3 linked regions of the Homo sapiens genome follow. The protein of the gene in region 3 interacts with the protein of the main gene of each other region in a biochemical or structural test. Each region holds a gene or a part of one and is shown on either strand. Other genes may lie near its edges.

The links.
Region 1: of the proteins of MBP (region 3) and MAPK1, one has a biochemical effect on the other in vitro, tested with the Homo sapiens proteins (16 studies listed by BioGRID and IntAct).
Region 2: of the proteins of MBP (region 3) and PRKCZ, one has a biochemical effect on the other in vitro, tested with the Homo sapiens proteins (2 studies listed by BioGRID).

What each region holds. Positions count from the first base shown.
Region 1 is NC_000022.11:21,759,274-21,766,694, forward strand, and holds the end of MAPK1 (mitogen-activated protein kinase 1), read right to left. Parts: intron 4,968-7,421; 3' UTR 384-4,967; downstream 1-383. UniProt on the Homo sapiens protein: Serine/threonine kinase which acts as an essential component of the MAP kinase signal transduction pathway. MAPK1/ERK2 and MAPK3/ERK1 are the 2 MAPKs which play an important role in the MAPK/ERK cascade.
Region 2 is NC_000001.11:2,165,362-2,172,782, reverse strand, and holds part of PRKCZ (protein kinase C zeta type), read right to left. Parts: intron 4,493-7,421; coding exon of another isoform or gene 4,216-4,492; exon of another isoform or gene 3,333-4,215; intron 3,290-3,332; coding exon of another isoform or gene 3,266-3,289; coding exon 3,179-3,265; intron 729-3,178; coding exon 593-728; intron 483-592; coding exon 395-482; intron 1-394. UniProt on the Homo sapiens protein: Calcium- and diacylglycerol-independent serine/threonine-protein kinase that functions in phosphatidylinositol 3-kinase (PI3K) pathway and mitogen-activated protein (MAP) kinase cascade, and is involved in NF-kappa-B activation, mitogenic signaling, cell proliferation, cell polarity, inflammatory response and maintenance of long-term potentiation (LTP).
Region 3 is NC_000018.10:77,122,450-77,129,870, forward strand, and holds part of MBP (Golli-MBP), read right to left. Parts: exon of another isoform or gene 5,911-7,421; intron 5,200-5,910; exon of another isoform or gene 1-5,199. UniProt on the Homo sapiens protein: The classic group of MBP isoforms (isoform 4-isoform 14) are with PLP the most abundant protein components of the myelin membrane in the CNS. They have a role in both its formation and stabilization.

The sequences.
Region 1 (7,421 bases), on a different chromosome or scaffold from region 3:
CCAGCCTAGATGCTGGTCCAAACTGCCATCTGGAACTGCTGAGCTACCGCTGAGAGAAGCCCATCACAAAGTGGGGAAAATGGGACCAGGCTCCTCTGCTGAACAAGGAAGATGATTATTCTGATTGCCTTATACAGAATCTGGACAACAGGGAAGACTGTTAAGTCTCTCAGGGAGAGGGCCAGTGGAATACTCCCACAGTGCTTCAAATACCCCATTGCAAACTCCCAGTTTAGGTGTGATCAGCTCACTTCCCTGAAGGTTTCTGACAGGAGGGTTTCTTCTCTGATTAGTAAGAGGGTTTCCTCTCAGATTAGCAGTTACGTTTGTTTGCAGGCATTTTAGTGACACCTCACAACAAAATTTAGTGAAATAAAGCAGCATTTAAAAAGACTTGCTATTTACTGAGTACTTGCTTTGAAGTACTATGCTGAACAGTTGAAATGTATTTTTATAATCTTTACCATATACAAGGCAAGTAATATTGCTTCCACTTTACAGCTGACAGTCTGAAGCAGAGGAAGAAAGCAGAGACGCAGAATGACTGGCCCACAGCCAGCCGCAGTTATAAGCAGGGGGTAGTTCTGAACCCAGCTGGATGGGTCCAAGGCCTGTGCTCTTTCCATAACACCACATCCAAAACATTTTCCAGTATCTTTGTTTTGTAAATAAGTCATTACATAATGCCCAATATTGATAAGAACCAAATGTCCAAGAAATCCTATCTTTATGACTTCTTGCTCTGAAAAAAGGGGTTGCCCAGGATGTCTGCCCAGCAGTGGGGTTGCAGAAGTTCAGGAGGATGAGGAGATGGGCGTGGGCACCGCCTACCCCCCCCCCCACAGGTGAAGGTCTGAAGAACCACCTGGAGAACCCTAGGAGCACTGACATCCCCATTCAACTCGAGGAACAGCTCACAGCCCTAACACAAGTTACCACATGCAGAGCAAATCTGGAAGACATCTGGGGAACATAACGAAGGACTAGACAATTTCACGTTTTCACAGATGAAACTGCAATTAAACTATACATGCACGGTGCTGTGTTATTTTGGTAATACAGGGACACAATTTAATGATTCTAAGGATTTTTTTGTAGTTTTTTTTTTTTACAAGTCAGGTGCCATAAACATTCAAATAATCCATCTTTTAAAAAGTACGTTTACAACATCAAAAGAATTAAGATGAAATATAAACCTTTCTACTTACAATTTTTATACAGATTAACCAAATCACAAATACCACAAATAAATGTTAATGTTAAATTGTAACAATATAATGAATAAACATTCAGATTCTTAATAAAATCTTCCTTTAACATTTTTTAACTTACCATTATACTAAATAATCTATGCAGAATTTTGGGGTACAATACCAAGAAGGCACCAACAGTACAAAGCAGATACAAAGCAGTTTCAGAACTTTCTTGAGTGCTCTACACGCATAAACAGCACAAGAAAAGGCAACAAGCTTTAGGTAAACCTGGTGCAACCCTGGAGGACTTGCTCTGGATTTCCATTTGTTTCTGACCCATCATGTCAAGGTGGATGACGTAAGAGAAACCACATATTCACTGTTATAGCTTCTCATCTGCACCACAGGAGTATCATGTTTCAAACACCAGCATAACAATTTTAAAGCACAAATGCTTTAAAAATGTATAAGCAAAAGGATTGCTCAGATTTTCAAAACCATTACATTTACAAAAATATTTCCCTTAAACTTGGGATTGCTCCAAAACATTGATTTACAAATATAAAAGTATTATGGAAGGACCCAAAGCATGTGTGCGTATGTATGTGTGTATTAACATACTGTTACCATACTATATAAAAGTTACCAATTTAAAAACCATATTAACATATAAGCAAATAAAGAGAAAACAGTTTCCTCTGAATGGCTGAAATATTACGTGGCATGTGGTTGGGTAGTTTACTTTTGTGATTCCTTAGAGAAAACCACTGGTGAGCTACATGTAGCTTCTCAAAGCTACTGGTTACCTCTACACCCACTGCCTGTGCCCAAGAGCAGAAGGAATGAGTGTGCACACACCACACACTGTGCACTGCACACACAATACAGTATTCTTCTACCCAGATGCCACAATGTCTGCGTATCTCTGCTAGCTTTGAGGACCTGTGTCAGGACAGAGTCCTCATGATTAGTTCTTTCAATTCCATCCCACTGGCTTGTTCAGTATTTCTTTTATACTAAATGAAAGGACTGGAATGTTTCAGCAGGAATTTTTTGCTTACATTTTAGACACCAAAAAAGCTATTAGTCTGAAAGCTTATTTGAACATACAAATAGTGGAGGTGCTGTTCCGTGTCACTAATATGAATTAAGATGACCTAATCTGTACATTTTTACAAATGTAAGAAGAGCCAAAATGATGCATCTACTACACATGATAGCTAGCGCTTTTCATAGGTACCTTGGTTAGGACCATTCTCTGCCCAGTTACATTATGTTTGGCATGATTAATAAAAAGCACACAACTTATGGCTACAATGATTCTAGAATGAAGTTAGTGGTTTCATGCCAATCTGACTCCACAGTACCAGGAAGGGGAATGGGAAGGAGCTCACAGTCTCCAGATGTTAGTAGCCAAGGATATGGTTTTCTATTTAGAAGAGGACTCCAAATTAACCTTATAATAGTAACTTTCCATTTAAAAAGAAACAAGAGTAATAAAACTGTCAATGCTTTTTTATAAATGAAAACTGACTAATCAGTGTTATCCGGTAACAGTCACATTTCTGTGTCCCGTCAATGCTGTGTGGACCTTCAGACGGCAGCTCTGAGCACGCAAGTGAAAAGCGCGTATTTCAGGGCAAGAATAGAGATGTGGGTCTGTTTTCCGAGGATGAGCCAGCTATCCTTCCTCAGCCACAGGAGTGGTGAGCGTGAGCACCCTGGGCTGGGTGGTGAGGACTGCGTACTGTGGGGCGGCCCTTCCCAACTCTTGGCTGTGCCCAGCAGCACCTCTGGGGCACAAGGGCAGGCCCTCTTTAGAGAGAACCAGGGAATCCAACCTGAGATGTCGGGGCTTCTTTGTTAGGGTTTGACAGAATATTTGAGACCTAAGATTGTGAATAAAGGAACATGACAGCATCGATTCTCTGCCGAGCAGAGGTAAAAAGGACCCTACAGAAGTACCTTTCTAACTCATCTTATGTAAATCCAAGTGCTGGGCCAGTGCCTGGGCGGCAAAGTGAGGCCTGTGAGCATTTCTGTGTTCAGCACAACCTGAACCTGACTGTCCATTCAGACACGCTGATCCAGAGGAAAGCAACACTGAATCTTAACATGAATGTGAAGATAGAAGATGTACATTTATTTTCATGAATTACAAATGCATTTCTGTTCATATTAGCAGGCAGTCTTTATATAACCCATTCTCCATTGCTGTCAAAAATCAAACAAGAAAAAAGGACAGCTGAGAAATGAAAAGCTAAAAATAGAATTATTTTTCCTAAATGATCTGCTGGATAGCATTTTCCGTGGAACACAACTCAGAGGTAACAATAGAGTTTTCATTTCAATCGTAGGCATGTGGCACTTGGACAGTCATCTCTGCACAGAAAGCTGTAACAGTCATGCGAGGGTACAGTAATTATTGAACAAGGCAAATTTCTCACCACAGAGAGCAGTGGGGAAGTCAAGAGGAGGCACCGCACTGGGACAGAACACCGAGTCAACTCCACAGTACACAGTGGCAGGAACAAATACTTAAAGAGATCAGTAAAATATGGATAGAGCTCCAAACACGAGTTAGTGCTAGCTTTTTCTGACAGTCTGACTCAGCAGTATCAGAAATATTTGAGTACTTGAGGACAGAACAGTGCTTCACGTCATGAGCTCCTGGAGGCTTTATTACAAATTGTTATACTGTAGGTTGAAAAATGAACTTGAGATGCTGACATGCTGTAGAAGGAAAAAGAATTGTATACTTTCTCATTTAAAGACGCAGTGTTCCTCTCTGCTAAATCCTCAGGCATGGAACGTGGTTACTGAAACACCCACATTTGAAGTAGCTCAAGGGCGTATATGCACCAGCATGTGGAGTTCCACCCTGGGACATCCCCAGAAACCGCCCACAGCTCAGCACTGCAACCTTTGTACTTCTCTCACCAAATGTCGAGTGAAGCTGCCACTTTAAATCTTTTTTTGTAAGTCTTACAAACATTAAGTACTGCACATAACGCTTCTTGACAAGTGTTACACCTCTATATGGTACAAGTGACCACAGTAACTACAGAGTGACACTGCTGGGTGCAGTACTTCCTTTTTATTTAGAAAAATGACTGCATTTTCTAAAAGCTGGGCCAATAGCACATACCTTATATATGTTAGTGACTACCATGATATGAGAAAAGACGTGGACAAGTGCTCCCCAAGGATTCCGGAGACGGAAGCACTTGCTGCAGGCTGCAACATCAGCCAAGGTATTTCCACAAGCTCCTGCTCTGGGGAAACAGTTATGGTCAAAAGGTGAAGTGCAAATAAGGGGCTGTCACTGACTTAAAGTGCCCTAGGTAGTAGCCTTCCCTATCATAAAGTGAGATGCCAGTGACTAGAGCCAATTGGGGAAGAATCTCTCTCTGGTGCGGCTGCATGGTCAGCAGGGCATCATGTAGAAAAGGATTCAGGAGAGGGAGGAACCACTGCATCTTTCAAACCAGAAAGCAATTAGTGACTAAAGCAACAGTAAGCAGTAGGTGCACTGAAGTACATACTGCCGCAGGTCACCAATGGGTGACACACACAGGGCTGCCAGGAGGAATTCTCTGGACTGAAGAAATTCTTTGAAAGCATAAAAGCCACAACTACCAGAAACCGCCCCTCCAAACGGCTCAAAGGAGTCAAAGTGGATAAGCCAAGACGGGCTGGAGACAGGACCAGGGGTCAAGAACTGGGAAGAAGAACACCGATGTCTGAGCACGTCCAGTCCTCTGAGCCCTTGTCCTATAGAAACACAAACAGACCACTGAGTTAAGAGTGAGCCATGTGAAAACAGCATCATCATCAGCATCACAAAACACAAAAGTGACAACAGTGAACCACATTAAAACAGCAGCAGCAGCAATAGCATTATGAAAACAGAAAAGGGAAAAAAGACTCCTGCAAAATGGCCATTTCTTTGGACACATTTGGGCAAGGATAACACATGGCAGTTCTGAAGGGGCCAGGGTCAGCCCTCACTCCACAGGCACCTCCTCTCAGACAGTTCTGAGGTGGTTTCCACAACACTCATAGGAAAGACGCCACTCCCCCAGCCTACGCTGACTGCAGTGTTCCTAAGATGTCCTTTATTTACCGTAAGATATCCAACACTAGTGCATGAAAATCTAGCAGAGTATCACTTACTATTTCACAGAGCACTTTCAGAGCTGTGGTTTCCATCTGCCACTCAGGAGGTGGGGCAAGAAGAATGGGCTAACTATAGCCAAACTGTGGACTTGGAGATGGGCTAAGAGGGAGAAGTGGTCTCTTTTATGTAGAGGTGAACTGCAGCCAAACCTACGGGTTGGCAGGAAATTAAAGCTGCCCTAAAATGCTTTCATCTTCAATAAACCAAAGGGAAATGCGGTTCATGCCCCTAGTGATCAATCCACCTGAGAAAATTCACAATCAGGCAGATGAAGAAGGAAGTTGAGCACTGACCTCTACCTTCACCCGCCTCACAGGGTAGGAGACTGAGGACATGGGCTGGGTAGGAATGAGGCTTGTCACAGGTAGTAGGCATGATCAGCTTTTAAACTTGCCCATGGAAACATTTCTAAAACTGACCCCCTTAAGCAAAATACAATGAATATAATTTGACCCTTTTTTAAGACCTTTCGGCCACCACTACAAATATCACTTCATTGCTTCCTCTACCAAAGGGGCCCCACAGCTGTGCTCTGTGGTCCTGGGGTGTATGTTTCTAAGCCTTTCTTGCTGCAGCCAAACGGTCAACCGTGCCCTCCCAGTGTTCCCATGTTTTATTACACCTTTACCTCCTGAGCTCTCCAATTCAGAGCTCCTGATCTCCAGTGTGTGGGCTGGGAACTCAGAGACAATGCTCCTTAGTATTGTGAATGAGTCCTGAGAACTTTCCCAAGGAGCAAGGCTAATCACAGGCAGTGTGCAGCCTGCCACTGTTTCATGCTGGCAAACATTTCAAGAAAATGACATTCTGGGTCCAAAATACCTGGATTCTCTGCCTAGTTTTGCCACTTGATGTACAATTTTGAGCGAAGTGCTCAAAGGCTCCTGTCTTCAGTTTCCTCAATTATAAACATGGATGCATGCTGACTTCCCAAAATTCTGTTGTGATCACCAAAATGAAATGTTTATGAAAGAACCTATCCCATAGTTTAATCAGCCAACCCAGCCCCAGCTTCCCCTGGATTCATGTGATATTCTAGATGACTAAATTGTAAGTCAGTCTAGACGTTGGCAACGTCCTTTGCAATGAATGGATAAAATGCGATGGGTTGATGGGTGGATAGAGGAACAGATGGACAGATCTATGAGAAAACAAGTAAGATGTTAATGTTAACTGTATAATCTAGGTGGTGGGAATATGGGTGTCTACTTTAAATTCCTTCAACTTTTCAGAATAGTTGAAAACTGTCACTAAAAGAATGTTGGGAAAAAAAATCATGCTATAAGCACATAGGGAGCATCTGTGTGTCTTCTGTGTCTGGAGCAAATGAACAACGCACAGAGGTGACTGTCCTTGCCACGCCGGGACTCTCAGAGTGGTGGTGGACCTGAGAGGGATACTGGTCCCCCGCCTTGCAAAGCTGGCTTCAGGAGGCGTTCTGCCAGCAACTGCGCCCTGTGGCCTCAGGAGCAACCCTGCCTCTGTCTTGCCATCCTTGTGCCTGCGGTGCTGCCTGTCTCTTCAGTGGCCTGACCAGTTTTCCCCCAAGTCCCTGCTCTCAGAGGTCCTCCTGCATCCTTACTGCCACCAGAGTCACCTGAGCCACTGCTTCAGGTCAGGCAGCTACCTGTGAGGGAGAGCTGGCCTCCTGGGGAAGCAAGGGCCACAGCCTGGGCTGGCCTCTTTCTCTGCAGCCCCCCTCTTGCCCAGCTGTCTGGCATGCCCGCCTTCCAGGGTCCACACAGCTGTGCCCCTCCCCAACCAGCAAAGAACCCAACTGTCAGGTTTCAGCTGCAGCACAACTGCCGCGAGTCGGCCACACTCTGTGAGGCTTTAATGTCTGCCTTACTCTCTGGGACCCACCATGCCTGTGTCCATCTCTGGGACTCTGTATACTCCTTGTTGTTTACATTTCCTGCTATGAGGCTGCTGGAAAGCAAAACCTGGGTTTTATTCATCTTTGTTCCTTTCCTAACTGGCGAAAGGAAGTGCTCAATGCTGATTAAATGATGAAAAACAAATTATCACGTCAACCCCAGAAGCTCTTT
Region 2 (7,421 bases), on a different chromosome or scaffold from region 3:
AGGGCCTGTGGGGTCCTGTCCACACGCTCCTGCACCCCCTGGGGCTCCCCAGACAACAGCTTCTCCCCCAGCCACTCGTGCAGCACGGGGACTCAGGTGCTGCACCCTGTCCCACCCCCGCTTTCTGTGTCTTTCCCCTCCCTGTGCCCCGGGGCTCCCTGGCAGGAGGAATCCTGTGCAGTGCCCTCCCCAAGGAGCTGCTCAAGTGGACATGGGAGGTTTTCCAGAATTCAAATAAGGGGCTGAGGCCAGATGATGACATCCGGCTGGGAAAGACAGTGTGTGGCTTTTGGGTGTAAGATGGTCAAGGACACCTCTCCCTGGCTGCTGGGCCAGGCCCGAAGCCATCTCTGGCCCTGTGTGCTCCGAGAGGGGCCAGGGCAGCGGCACTCACCGTACTCCTCTCCCCGCAGGATTTCGGGGGCGATGTAATTCGGGGTTCCGCAGAAAGTGCTCGTTGTGTCACCAGGGCCCAGGCCTTCCTGTGGGGGCAAAGTTACTGGGAGAGGGTTCTTGTAGACACTACCCCGCGGGACAGGCGCCCCGAGACGCACATGCGGGATGGTCAGGGGAGGCGGTCCAAGGCACGCACCTTGCACATGCCGTAGTCTGTGAGCTTGATGTGCCCGTCCGCATCCAGGAGGACGTTGTCCAGCTTCAGGTCCCTGTAGATGATCCCCCTCTCGTGCAGGAAGTTGAGGGCGATGCAGATCTCGGCCGCGTAGAACCTGGGGGTGGGGATGCCGTCATGGGGGCAGTGCCTGTGCCAGAGGCTGCGCCAACAGCTCCAGCCTGGGGGCCACACACTCCCGTTTGCCCCACCACGGGCCCGGCATCCTCTCAATGACCAGGCCCAGGATTTGAAAGTGCAGTGCACAGGGCCAGGGAGGGAAATGCCAATGAAAGCTCCAGGACACCACCCCATGCGCCTTAGGATGGCCTGCTGTCAAAGACACAGAGAACGATGTGGCAGCCTCCACAAGGGGAGGAGCGGGCAAATAACACGACAGCTTCCATGCGGGAAAGACCGGAGCCATGGCACGTTGTGGTAGGAGTGCAGAACAGCGCCGCTGCTGCGGAAGACAGTCCGGCAGGTCCTCGAAAATTAAACACGGTGCCAGGCTTGGTGGCTCACACCTGTAATCCCAGCACTTCGGGAGGTCGAGGCAGGCAGATCACCTGAGGTCAGGAATTCAAGACCAGCCTGGGCAACATGGCGAAACTCCGTCTCTACTAAAAATACAAAAAAATTAGCCGGGTATGGTGGCGCACACCTGTAGTCCCAGCTACTCTGGGGGCTGAGGCAGGAGAATCACTTGAACCTGGGAGGCAGAGGCTGCAGTGAGCTGAGATCCCACCACTGCATTCCAGCCTGGGTGACAGAGCGAGACTCCATCAAAAAAAAAAAAAAATTAAATATGACCTTTTTTTTTTTTTTTTTGAGACAGAGTTTCACTCTGTCACCCAGGCTGGAGTGCAATGGCGCGATCTTGGCTCACTGTAAGCTCTGCCCACAGGTTCACGCCATTCTCCTGCCTCAGCCTCCCGAGTAGCTAGGACTACAGGCGCCCGCCACCACACCTGGATAATTTTTTGTATTTTTAGTAGAGACAGGGTTTCACTGTGTTATTTCACCGTGTTAGCCAGGATGGTCTCGATCTCCTGACCTCGTGATCCGCCCGCCTTGGCCTCTCAAAGTGCTGGGATTACAGGCGTGAGCCACCACGCCCGGCCTAAATATGGAATTCTTATGTGGTTAGCAATTCAGTTTCTGGGTGTATACCCCAAAGAACCGGAAGCAGGGTGTTCAAGAGATTACTTCACACCCATGTTCACAGCAGCACTGTTCACCATGGCCAACATGTGGATGCCACTCAAGTGCCCCCCGAGGGATGGACGGATAAGCAAAGTGTGGCCCCTCCATCCAACGGGGCATTATCCAGCCTGAAAAAGGAAGGCAATTCTGAGACAGGCCACAGCACGGATGAATCTTGAGGACGCTATGCTCAGGAAAATGAGCCACCGAAGGACCAACACTGTGATTCCACTCCGATGAGGTCCCTAGAGTCCTCGAATCAGAGGGACAGAAAGTGGGACGTGCCCGTCTGGGGTGAGGATGTGAGGCTGGGGCGGGGGACAGGGAGGGAGTGTCTGATGGGCCAAGCTTCAGCAGGGAAGAGGGGCGTGCTCTGGAGATGAGACGGGGGCCAGCAGTGGCTGCAAAGCATGGGGTGCATTCAACGCCACTGAATTCCATGCCCCAAAATGCTACCTTTTATGTTGTGTGTTGCCACAGTTTTTAAAAACAGCGTTGTGGGAAGTGTACTGTTCTAGATTTATTGCCTACTGTCCTATTGCCAGAAACAATCTAAGGTGACTCACAAAACTGCATGCAACGTTCTTAAGTAAGGAAATGAGGAAAAGGAGAAACTACAAAAGACAGGAAAGGTCCAGGGAGCTGAAATAAGCCCCCAAACGGTCCTGGAGGTCCCGCGGCTGCCGGGGGAGGCTCCTGAACCATGCTGGAGGCCCCTCGGCTGCCAGGGGAGGCCCGAAGATATCAGAGATGAAAGGGAAGGGCAGGAAGGAGTCTCTCAGGTCACTCTAGAAACAGACCACTCTCGTTCTGCTCCTAACGCTGAGGAAATGCTGGCCATGCTGTGCCACTAACAGGGTGAAGAGCAGAACCAGGGCAGAGCCACCATGAAGACAGCACAATCCCAGGAGACTCTCACTTCTCTCGGATGAGGCATGGTGCTGCTTCAGGGGTGGGGCCTGGGGGACTGGTCTGAGGCACCATAACTCAGGAGACCTCCCAAATGTTGTGACTCTGGAGCAAATATGGAATGTGTCACAATGCAGGGGACGTCACACTGTGGGGGACATGATGCCCTCTGCCATCCTACCTGGACTTCCCTCCCTTGAGCTCCCTGCTGACCCCTGGAGAAGGTCCCCGGCCCCCTCCACGTGCACCCCGCCCCCCCCGCCCCCGTCATACCCCCTCCGTGCACACCCCACCCAGCCACCTCCCCTCTGCGCACACCCACCCGGCCCCCCAACTCCGCGCGCACCCACCCGTCATCCCTCTGTGCGCACCCACCCAGCCCCCCAACACCGCACGCACCCACCCATCCCCAACTCCGGGCGCACCCACCCGGCCCCGTCCACGCGCACCCACCTGGCGTGCTCCTCAGGGAGCTTCCTCTGCCTCTGCATGTGGAACATCAGGTCCCCGCCGTTGACGTACTCAATGACCAGGAACAACCTGCAGGGAGAGAGGCGCCGGAGGCTGCAGTCACCTCGGCAGACGGCGGCCTCCTTAGACAGAAGCCCCACAGAAGCGGCCTTCGTGGGCCCGAACCCTCCCGCAGGTTCAGTCTTGCAAAGAGCAAAGAGCAGCAGGAGCACCCTGGCAGCAGAGAGGGGCTGGTGGGGACGGGCTGCGGGGCCGCTCGTGAAGGGTGCAGGTGAGGGAGTCATGCGGGGGCCTCGCCGGCCTTCACTCTTGGCCACTGTGTGTGGACTTGGGAAGTGTGGGTGGGCCCCGGAATGAAGGAGGTGGCCCGTCACCAGGTGGGAGTGGAGGTGGCTTGGACCAGGGCTGGGGGCTGGGACAGGATCTGCTGGGGGCTGGAGCGAGGCAGTTTCTTGCATGGGGACAGCACCGCAGGTCACGGGTGGGGTGGCCTCAAGGCCTGATTTCATTGCTGCAAGGCTGAGGAGTCCACCGGCCCTCCAAGGGAACAAGCTGGGGTCAGGGAGAAGCCAGGTGGGAAGTGGCATCCCGGTTTCGCAGACATGATCGTATGATTTTAAAAGATCCGCAGATGTCATCAGGACCACGCAGGCCCTTCCCGTCTCAGGGACTGGGCCACATGGTTTCTCTTCCTAATAAGATCTTTTCCTACATTTCATGAGACTCAATTTTCAAAATTAAATTCTCATACAATCTCCCAGAAATACCCTGTGGCGGGTTTTTTTAGGTCAGCGGCTCCTCTGGCACCTGAATTGTTTATTTGCTTCCGACTGGTGGCTGCTCCTGGCTGCCCCTCGTGGAGCGGGGAGTGAAGGAGGGAAGCGTGTGGTGACTCTGCCCGTTTCCTTCGATCCCACGCAAGCTCCCACACCACCGCCACTGTTACGCCTCAAGGCACCTGTCCCTGCTCCTGCCCTCCACAAGCTCCCAGAATTAAGCCAGAGAGGACAGAGGCCAGTTTACACAGGGCAGGTGAACTGGCTGCAAATCATCTGTGAAGTTTCTGATTGGAAACAAACTCCTAAAAATCGAAAGAGCCCTGGGCCCCAAGTGAGGAGCTGGAGAGACGTCCACGTGGCCAGTCGGGCACCCTGAAGAATAAGCCGTGCCTTTGGGGAGCGGCTGGGGAAGGCTCGTTCCTCGGCTTTTGTTGTCTCCCCTGCCTCCAACGGATGTGCCTGGAAATTCTCTGGTAACCTGGCCCTTGTCCTTGGGGACTCGCTGGTCCACTGCTCCCTGTTTTGTAAATAAAGTTTTATTGGAACGAGGCTATGCTCACTGGTGCATCTATTTTCTATGTCTGCTTTCCAGCCACCGTGGCAGAGGGAGTTGCTAACAGAGACCCTGTGGCCGCAAAGCCAAAAATGTCTACTCTTGGGCCCTTCAAGAAAAAGTTTGCCAATCCCCGGTATAAACAAAATAGCAATGACAGAAAGAGCAGCTCTGAGGGTGCCCTCGATGTGCAGGAACGTCCTCAGTGCACCCGTGGAGGGACTCGTTCAGTAACGTCAACCCCACGGAACGAAGCTCCATGAAGGCCTCCAACCCCTGGAGGACACCCACGACCTAAGAGTCGGTCAGAAAACGTTAAGAAAGAATTTATTCAAAACCCTTAGAGTGCCTGGGCGTGGTGGCTCACGAGGCCTGTAATCCCAGCATTCTGGGAGGCCAAGGCAAGCAGATCACCTGAGGTCAGGAGTTCGAGACCATCCTGGCCAACATGGTGAAACCTCATCTCTACTAAAGATACAAAAATGACCCAGGGCTGGTGGTGTGCACCTGTAATCTCAGCTACTCGGGAGGCTGAGGGCAGGAGAATCGCCTGAACCCAGGAGGCACAGGCTGCAGTGAGCTGAGATTGCGCCACTGCACTCCAGCCTGGGCGACAGAGCAAGACTCTGTCTCAAAGAATAAAATAAAAATACAAAAAACCACAAAAACCCTTAGGGTGACTTCACCGCACATTTTTTGCCACCAGGAGTTACACGCCCCAATGGGTGCTGGTCCCTTCCACCTGTCCCCCCGAGAGGAGCCACGTTCACCCCAACAGTGCTGCTGCGGCGCCTGGGAAGGGCCTCCACGGCCTCTGTGGGTTCATCCTAACTTTAAGCTATCACGGCCCATAGGACGGGGACAAAGCCAATGCCATTTCCAGAGAAAATAAAGAAATACATGAATTCTAGAGAAAAGCATCAATACAATGCCTCAGGAGGCTGAGAGAATTTGGGGGACATTTAAACACTTAGAGAGGTAGAGGCGGAGGCCGCTTCCCCTTCTTCTCCAGAGAAAAGCCAATCACGGGAACTGTGCTGAAAGCCAGTTCTCTCTGCCCAAGGCCTAGGACCCAGGCAGCTTGCTGAGGAAGGAATTTATTTAATTTGCAACTGCTCAAGCTGCAATGATGGTGGGGTTTTTTTGTCTACAGAAAAACCTTAATGCTACTTTTGACATTTCTTCAGAGCAAAAACCCACCAGGACAATCTGGTGTCAATTCACTCTAAGGCGACTCTGCGTGACACAAGCTGAGCTGGCTGCTGACAAGATGCCTGGGACCATGGCTGAGCATGCTCCGAGCCCACTCCTCTCCTCACGCTGGTGGTGTGCACCTGTAATCCACATGGGCTCGGCCCACTTGGGTGCCCCACAGGCGCTGTCCTGCATAGAGGCTCTCAGGCAGGGGCGCAAGGCCAGGCCAGGGGCGTGTGTGGCTTCACCCGTAGCCCCTCAGTGACACACACAGTCCTGACCCCAAGGGATGCTGGGAAGCACAGCCTGGGGGTGGGGGTGGGGGGCTGAAGGTGCCCCTCCATGTCCTGGTAGCCACACTCGCCATGTCGTGGCCTGGGGGGGGCTGAGGCTGCCCCTCCGTGTCCTGGTAGCCACACTCGCCATGTCGTGGCCTGGGGGAGGGGGCTGAGGCTGCCCCTCCGTGTCCTGGTAGCCACACTCGCCATGTTGTGGCCTGGAGGCGCTGGGGATGCCCCTCCCTGCTCCCTGTCCTGGCATTAACGCTCCTCTCATGTTTGCAAGGGGAGAGGAGCAAGCAGAGCCCAGATGGGAGGCGGGAGGCGGGAGTCATGAGACACGTGCCCTCGGGGCTGTTTTTCTGAGACAAGATCTCACTCTGTCACTCAGGCTGGAGTGCAGTGGTGTGATCATGGCTCACTGCAGCCTCGACCTCCCAGGCTCAGGCAATCCTCCGGCTTCAGCCTCCCGAGGAGCTGGGACCACATGCTTGCACCACCACCGCCAGCTAATTTTTAAATTTTTTGTAGAGAAAGGGTCTCGAGATATTTCCCAGGCTGGTCTTGAACCCCTGGCCTCAAGTGATCCTCCGGCCTCAGCCTCCCAAAGGGCTGGGATTACAGGTGTGAGCCACTGCACATGCCTGTCCATGATACTTAATCAAATACACAAACGTGAAGAACGCCAGCAAAAATGGATTCATCAACAACCAAAGACAAAGTGCAGCTCTCAGGAACCAGGCGAGACGCAGACCGCAGCCGGATCCAGTCCCTGACCCTGCCCTGGAACCGGCACCATCCAACAGACATGGGAAATGGAGGGACAGTGGCCGCAGGGGGATGCTGGAAGCTCACGAAACCTCCTAGGGGGCGGCCGGGGGCTGAGGGAAGCTCACAAAACCTCCTAGGAGGTGGGCCCTGTCCTTGGTGCCGCCCCCTCCTCGCCACTCCCCCCACCCCTTCCAGGAATGCAAGGTGCCCGGCTCAGAGGGAGGAACCACAGCCCTCTCCTGGAGGCACAGGAGACGCTGCCCTGAGAGTCAAGAATTAACCAGATGGGTCCGGGCGGGCCACCACCATGTGTGTACAGAAAGTTCTGGTGGAACACGGCCACACGCGTCCCTTCACGCAGTGTCTAAGGCTGCTTCTGTTTTAGAACGCATAGTTGCCACAGAGGCCGCATGGCCCACAAAGGTGGAAATATTTACTGCCTGACCCTTTAAGACAACCTTTGCTGACCGCTGGTGTGGCCCTCAGTAAGCGTCAGTCTCCAAGTCCCTCTGTGTTAACGCACTTGACCCCATCACCAGGAAGTAAGTTCAGCTCTCGCCATTTTACAGATGGGGAAGCCGAGGCACAGACAGGTTAGGGGACGTTCTCCGGCTCACACAGCTCCTGGCTTGTCAGACCCAACATCAGAT
Region 3 (7,421 bases):
GCTCAGGCAGCTCCCGGGACAGTGGAGGCCAAGTGGGAAGTGAACTGCGGCATAGAAGACAGCAAAACGTTACACTGTATTTTGTTTCTTTCTTTTCTTTAAATTTTTTATGAGACAGAATCTTGCTCTGTCACTCAGGCTGGAGTGCATTGGCGCAATCTGGGCTCACTGCAACCTCCGCCTCCCGGGTTCAAGCAGTTCTCCTGCCTCAGCCTCCCGAGTAGCTGGGATTACAGGCGCCCACCACCACGCCTGGCTAATTTTTGTATTTTCAGTAGAGACAGGGTTTCACCATGTTGGTCAGGCTGGTGTTGAACTCCTGACCTCAGTTGATCCTCCCGCCTCGGCCTCCCAAAGTGCTGGGATTACAGGCATGAGCCACCGCGCCCGGCTAGTATATTTTCCATTCAACATAATTCTGCCAGTTCTAGTCGTCATCATCCAGTCTACTCTACTCCTCTACCGAGCACAACCCCCTTCTTTAGAAAGCCAGCAGCATTTTGTATACATGGCAGGGTATTGAGCAAATATTTTGCCATGGGAAAATTACTTGGGAACTTCTAAGCTTCCTAATAAAACTATAAGCACTTCAAGGGCAAGAATGACATCTATTTTCTCTTAACATACCCTGAAATGGACGGCATAGTATTTTTGTACACAGTAGACACCAAGGAATTTTTAAAAAGTAATGGTACGTTTGCTGTATGTGAGGAGCCTACAACATAGTTCTATAATTTTTTGCTTTGATAGCAAGTTTAGCAAACATGGTAGCTTTCAACCATACAAGAAAGATGAAGAAAATGAGTATCCATAAACGTTCCTCATCAGATGAAGACTCACGCAGGACATAAAATGTTATTCTCTAAATATGGAAAAAGCATCAAAAATACATGATGCAAATAAAAATAAACTGTCAACAAAAAGCTTTAGTATCAATTAGTTATTCTAATGCAAATTCAATTTATCAGTGAAACAGAAAGGACTTCCTGATCACATGAAAGCACACATTTGAGAGCTTGTGTGGGTCTATTCAGATGAGCTGTGTCGACCTGGAAACACCGAGGCACTCACGGTCTGTTTCCTTCCTTCACTTACAGCAGCAATCCTAAGTTAACCCGGAGCTCATTAAAATACATATTCCTGGGCCCGACCCCAAGACTGTGGGGTGGTATGCCAGGGTGGGCCTAGGACTCTGCATTTAATTTGAATTCTCAGTGTAATGTGTGCAGGTGGCTGCAGACCACAGGAGCCAGCTTGTCCCCTCTCCTGGTGAGCAGGTCAGGGGGCCACGGCAGATGCTTGGCTTGGGAGTTGGGCGTCCAGCCACCAAGGCAATTCTGTCCCTGCTAGGACTCTAAACTGATCCAGGTAGCTTTGTTTTGTTTTCCGTGTGTATTGACCTCTGGAGCTTTAGGTTTCTTAATCAGGCTCCAGGTGAAAAGCAGATCTGAGTAGAGCATTTCTCTGTCTCTCTGGGTTGGTGGTCAGCCGGGAAGCAGCCTAGGGCACCTGCACGGAGTCTGCGGGTGGAGCTGCCCTGAGCTCCATCCCTTCCCAGCACAGGGCATTTTGCTCTTGCCTGCAGGGCAGCATGGGCACACCTTCCTACCTGGAAGGAGCAGGGCTCTCTGGGAGCATCCCGTGTCACCAGATGCCCCAAAAGACGGGCCGCAACACCAGCAGTCCCCTGAACTGCTGAGAAACCTCCCTTTCTCCAGCCTCCTGCCTCCCCCTCATCTCTGCCTCTGGGTCCTTTGTTTCCATGTTCTATCTCCTCTTTATTACTTGCCTTTTTATACATTGTATATGTGGTCTCTAATGTAAAATTAAACAGGTAATTTGGTTAATCACTTACTATGAATAAAACTTCATTTTCTTTCTTGACCTTTGGAAAATTGGGGAGCTGAATATTAATCCCTTTACTCTTAAAGGAAGTGAATTGATGTAAACATAAATCGCTAGAATAACTCTTCTGGCCACCACGCCTCCCACCCCCCACCCCGTGCTGGCCTCCTTTCTTGGGGCTCAGTAGCTGCTGTGGTCGCTGCCTGCACCTCCTTCCCCAGCTGCACCCCCGGAAGTGGGGGTTGGACGCGGGGCAGCTGGGGCCGCACTGGCCTGGGTGCCTGTCTCAGGTGAGTTCGGAGGGGATGGGAGAGGAAAGGAGCAAAGTCTCCCTCGGGGCCAGTGGGGGAGAGCCCACCCACAGGAGATAGGAGATAGGGCTTTGGGGACTTCCTGAGGCTGTTGAGCGGGCAGCCACACTTTACCTCCAGAGTTTCTGAGCCAGGTCGCCTGCAGAGTGACAGGAAGTGGGGCCCTGGTTTGCTGGCCTCTGTCTGAATCATGCTAGACTGCTCTTAGAGGCCCAGCTCATTATAAATCCTGGCAGCCAAGAAGGAAAAAGGGCTGGATCCCCATACAAATTTTGTTCCTTAAATCTTTTCAGATTTAGCTAGATTCTCATGGTTCTTCCTCAAGTCATGGGCTCAAGAGTGAGGTTGCAAACACCTAGTTAATCCCCAGGCCTGTGCTGAATCCAGCCCACTCCTCTGAGGTCCCGGCTCCTGCCCGTTTCTGCACGCTTCTCTTTTTAGATCAATTTCTTTATCCTTCCTTTCTGCACTTATATTACTTGAACAAATGACAACGAAGAGGAGGGAGACTGTCTCTCCTGCCCTTTCTTCTTCCTCTCCTTCGCCTTCCTTGTCATTGTCATGCTCTTACCAAATTTCAGTAATTTCACCTCCACACCTGCTTTCAGATTCCTTTGTGGGGCCTTCTAATCTTCCTCTCTAACACTTCATTATCGCTGGTGTCATTTCCCCCCAAACTTTACATTGGTTTATTTATTGCTAATATAAATTACTAATTAGTTCGAACATATTAAAAAGCACAGATAATAATCTACAAGACAACTGGCTTATCCTTTTCATCAAAAAAAGTAACACATTCTGTTATTTGTATAAAATCTCAAAATATTTTTAAGAAATAAAACCATGCAGAGACAGCCAATTCCCTCCCCTCCCCGAGATTAGAAGATAACATTACCTGGCTTCTATATGTCATATAATCCCACGTAATCATGACCACATGTTCTTTTGTGGATTTGAAAATTTTAAAGAAATAGAATAATACTATATATATTCATTTGCAGTTTGCTGGTTTCCATTCAACACTGTTATTTAGAATTTTGTCCATGTTGATACACAAAGTCTGGGTAGTTTAACTGTTGTAAGTAAATCATAGCGTAAATCTATAGCCCTACTCATGGGGAATTAGTGTGTTTCCCTCCTTTTTTTTTGTATCAAAACTTTTACTCGATAAAATATGTACACCTAGTTCAGTAGTGCTGAGAGGGAATTCATACCCTGAAATACTTATATTAGAAAGCAGGAAAAGTCTCAAATCAATAATCTAAGATCTAATTCAAGAAACCAAAAAAAAAAGAGCTAAATATATACAAACAAAGTAGAAGGAAGGAAATACCCAAGAAAGAAATCCCCAGGCCCACATGGTTTCACCGGAAATTTCTACTAAAACAGTTAAGGAGAAATTTATGGCAATTTTATACAATCTCTTCCAAAAGTTAGAACAAGTGGGAACACTTTCTAACTCATTTTATGAGGCCAGTTATCCTGATACTGAAACTAGCAAAGACTATACAAAAAATGAGAACTATAGATCAATATCTCACAAACACTTAGAGGCAAAAGTCCTCAACAAAATATTAGTAAAGTGAATCTAGCAACACATAAAAAAGTTATATACATGGCTAAGTGGAATATATATCAGATACTCAAGGGTGGGTCAGCATTAGAGAGTCAGTCAATCAACTATCCATCATACCATGAAGTCAAAGAAGAAAAATCTCATGAACATATAAATTGTCCCAGAAAAGACATTTGACAAAATACAACACACATTCATGAATAGACATGGACTATTGACTTGATAAAGAACATCCATAAAAATCCTATAGCTACATCATAATTGGTGGTAAAAACTCAGTGCTTTGCCCTTTAGGTCAGAATAAGGCAAGTTCTTGCAACTCTTATTGAATATAGCACTGGACATTCTAACCAGTACGGTAAGATAAGAAAAAGAAATAAAAAGTATATAAATTGGAAAGAAGAAATAAAACTATCCAATTTGCAGATAACATGATGATCTACATAGACAATCCCAAGAAATCTACCAAAAAAAATCCTCCTAGATCTAATAAGGCAGCTCAGTAGGTTGCAGAATGTGGACTGACACATAAAAATTACTCACAGTTCTACCTACTCCACAATAAACGTGGAAACTGAAGTTAAGACACAATGCCATTTAGAAATGCCCCAAAGAAAATAAAACACTTATGTACACTGTAAAGAAATTTCAGATTCAGAATCTGTGCACTGAAATTTATAAAACATTGATGAAAGAAGTTAAAGAAGACCTAATTACCCATAGAGAGACAACCTGTGATCATGGATTGGAAAACTCAACACAGTAGAACTATTAATTCTCCCTAATCTATACATTTGAAGAAATTCCTATCAAAATCCCAGCAAGGTTTTTGCACCCATAAACGCGCTATTCTAAAATTCATATGGAAAGGCCCAGAACCTACAATAGCTAACATAAGTTTTATAAAGAATAATAAAGTGGAAGGAAGTCACTCCACCTGATTAAAGTTGACTATGCAACTACAGTAATCAAGACAGTGTGCTCTTGGCAGAGAGACTGACATATAGACTAATGGAACAGAATAGAGAACCCAGAAATAGACCCACAGCAATAAGTGGAAACGGTTTTTAGCAAAGGTGCAAAAGCAATTTAATGGAAGAAGGATCACCTTTTCAACTAATAGTCCCGGAGCTATTGGACATTCGTTGGCAAAACCCAAACCAAACCAAAACAAATAAGCCTCAACCTAAACCTCACACCTCATACAAAAATTAACTCAAAATGGAAAATAGGCTTAAGTATAAAATGTGAAACTATAAAATTTGTAGGGAAAAAAGGAGAAAATCTTCGGGAACCTCAGGCTAGGTGAAGACTTAGACTTCACACCAAAAATCAAAATCCAAAAAAGGTAAAATTAATAAACTTGAATTCAACAAAATGTAAAACTTTCTGCAAAGGACTCTGTGAAGAGGGTGAAAAAACAAGATAAAGTGGTAGAAAATAATCACCGAGTGGTAAGGCCAGCATCTAGAAAATATAAAGAATTAGGAAAACTCAGTTGTTAAAACCAAACAATCCAATTAAAAAGTAGGCAAAAGACATGAACAGACTTTTCACTGAGGAGGATACACAGATGGCCATAAGTACATAAAAAGGTCTTGATGTCATTAGCCATCAGGACAATGCAAATTAAACCATCAGGAGATATCACTACACACTTATTAGAAGAGCTAAAATAATAAAAAAAAAAAATAGTGGCAATACCAAATGCTGCCCAGGCTGGGAAGGTCCTGAATCACTCACACACCGCCGGTGGGAATGCAAAATGGTGTAGCCATTCTGGAAAAGAGTTAGCAGTTTCTCATAAAATTAGACATGTGCTAACCATATGACTCAGCAATTGCACTCCTGGGCATTTATCCCAGAGAAATGAAAACTATGTTCACACAAAAACCTGTACAAGAATGTTCACAGCAGCTCTATTTGCAATAACCAAAACCTGGAAATAATCCAAGTGCCCTTCCTGGGTGAACGGTTGAACACACCTTGGTTCATCCAGATGACGGAACACCACTAAGTAATTAAAAAGAAACACCTATGGACATGCTTGCCAACCCGGATGGGTCTCAAGGGAATTGCGTTTAGCGGAAAAAGCCAGTCTCGAAAGGTTGCATAGTGTATGATTCCATTTATAGAGCATTCTTAAAGCGACAAAATTATAGAAAATAGGAACCATACTGTGGTTGCCAGCCTCAGGGAGGGGGAAGGAGGAAGTCAGCTTGGCTATAAAGAGTAGCATCAAGGATCCTGTGATGAAACTCTCCTGTCCTCTGATGTGTTGGTGGTCACATGGTTCTACATGGGTGATAAAATTACAGAGAACTAAGCGCACGTGCATACCACACACACACACACACACACACACACACAGAGCAGTCTATAAAATGAGTACATGTAAACTGGTGGAATCTGAAATCTGAACAAAGTTAATGGGTTGTATCAATGCTCATTTTCTAGTTGTGGCATTGTACTATGGTTTTGTAAGATGTTATTGTTGGGAGAAACTGGTGAAGGGAATTGCATGTGAATCTACATGATCTCAAAACAGGGTTTTACTACATTGCTTCAGTGAATATCCACTGTGTGTGTCTTATGCACACAGACCAGGTTTTCCCTAGAGGAGATACCTAGAAGTGGAATTGTTAGATCTTAGGATACACCCACCTTCACTTTTTCTAGATTATTCTCTAACATCTTTGTTCCTATTTACATTCTAGTCGAACTCATGTGAGGTCTAAGTTTTCTACACCTTCTCTAATATTTGGTATAGTCACAATTTAAATTTTTTTCCAGTACCGTAAAGGTAAAAAAAAATCTTTTTGCCATCTTAGTTTTGAATTCCCTGATTCCCAGAGGGTTAAAGTCCTTTTCTTATTTTATCAGTCCATCTGGGTTTTCTCATTAGTCTCATATTTTACTCTTGAGTGGCTTGTTTCAAATTACCACATTTTAGAACTGTTTCTGTATTCTAGATCCTGGCCTCACATAGGTCTGTTTCTCCTCATCTTTTAGATATCCACCTATTTTTCACAATGGTGACTCAGACCAACGCAGTGCTATTCACAGAGTCCAGAACAAAAGAACATTCGGAATGACATTTTTACGCTTTAATGGCTATTGAGTGTGAGACATTACTAATAGCTTTGGAACATGCACTCGTGGTTGTTGCTGGCATGTGGGAGATGTTGCTGTGGAAGGCAGCTTCAGTCGGCCGGGGAGATCAGCTGCCTTCTGGCTGGCCTGTCCTACAGACGTCCCACAAACCTGGCCAGCCCACCTCTGCATAAGCCATTCCTTGCCATGAGTCTCTAATGTGTATCTCCACCTGCTTCTGTTTCTCTGGATGAAGCCTGTCCACTACAGGTTTTGACAGAGATTTAAAATCTCCTGTAGAGACTATTCCAGCTACTCGCCTGGCATTTCTGCTCAGCTGGCATTAGGGCCTGTGGCATGAGCACTCTTCCCTTAAACAGCTCCAGAGCTTCCTTCACGGGTTCCAATGGGCCAACAGAAGTGTCTTACTACTTAATGGCCACTTATTTAAAATTATCCCAAGAGTAATTAGAGGCCAGGCGCGGTGGCTCATGCCTGTAATCCCAGCACTTTGGGAGGCCGAGGTGGGTGGATCACTTGAGGTCAGGAGTTTGAGACCAGCCTGGCCAACATGGTGAGGCCCCATCTTTACTAAA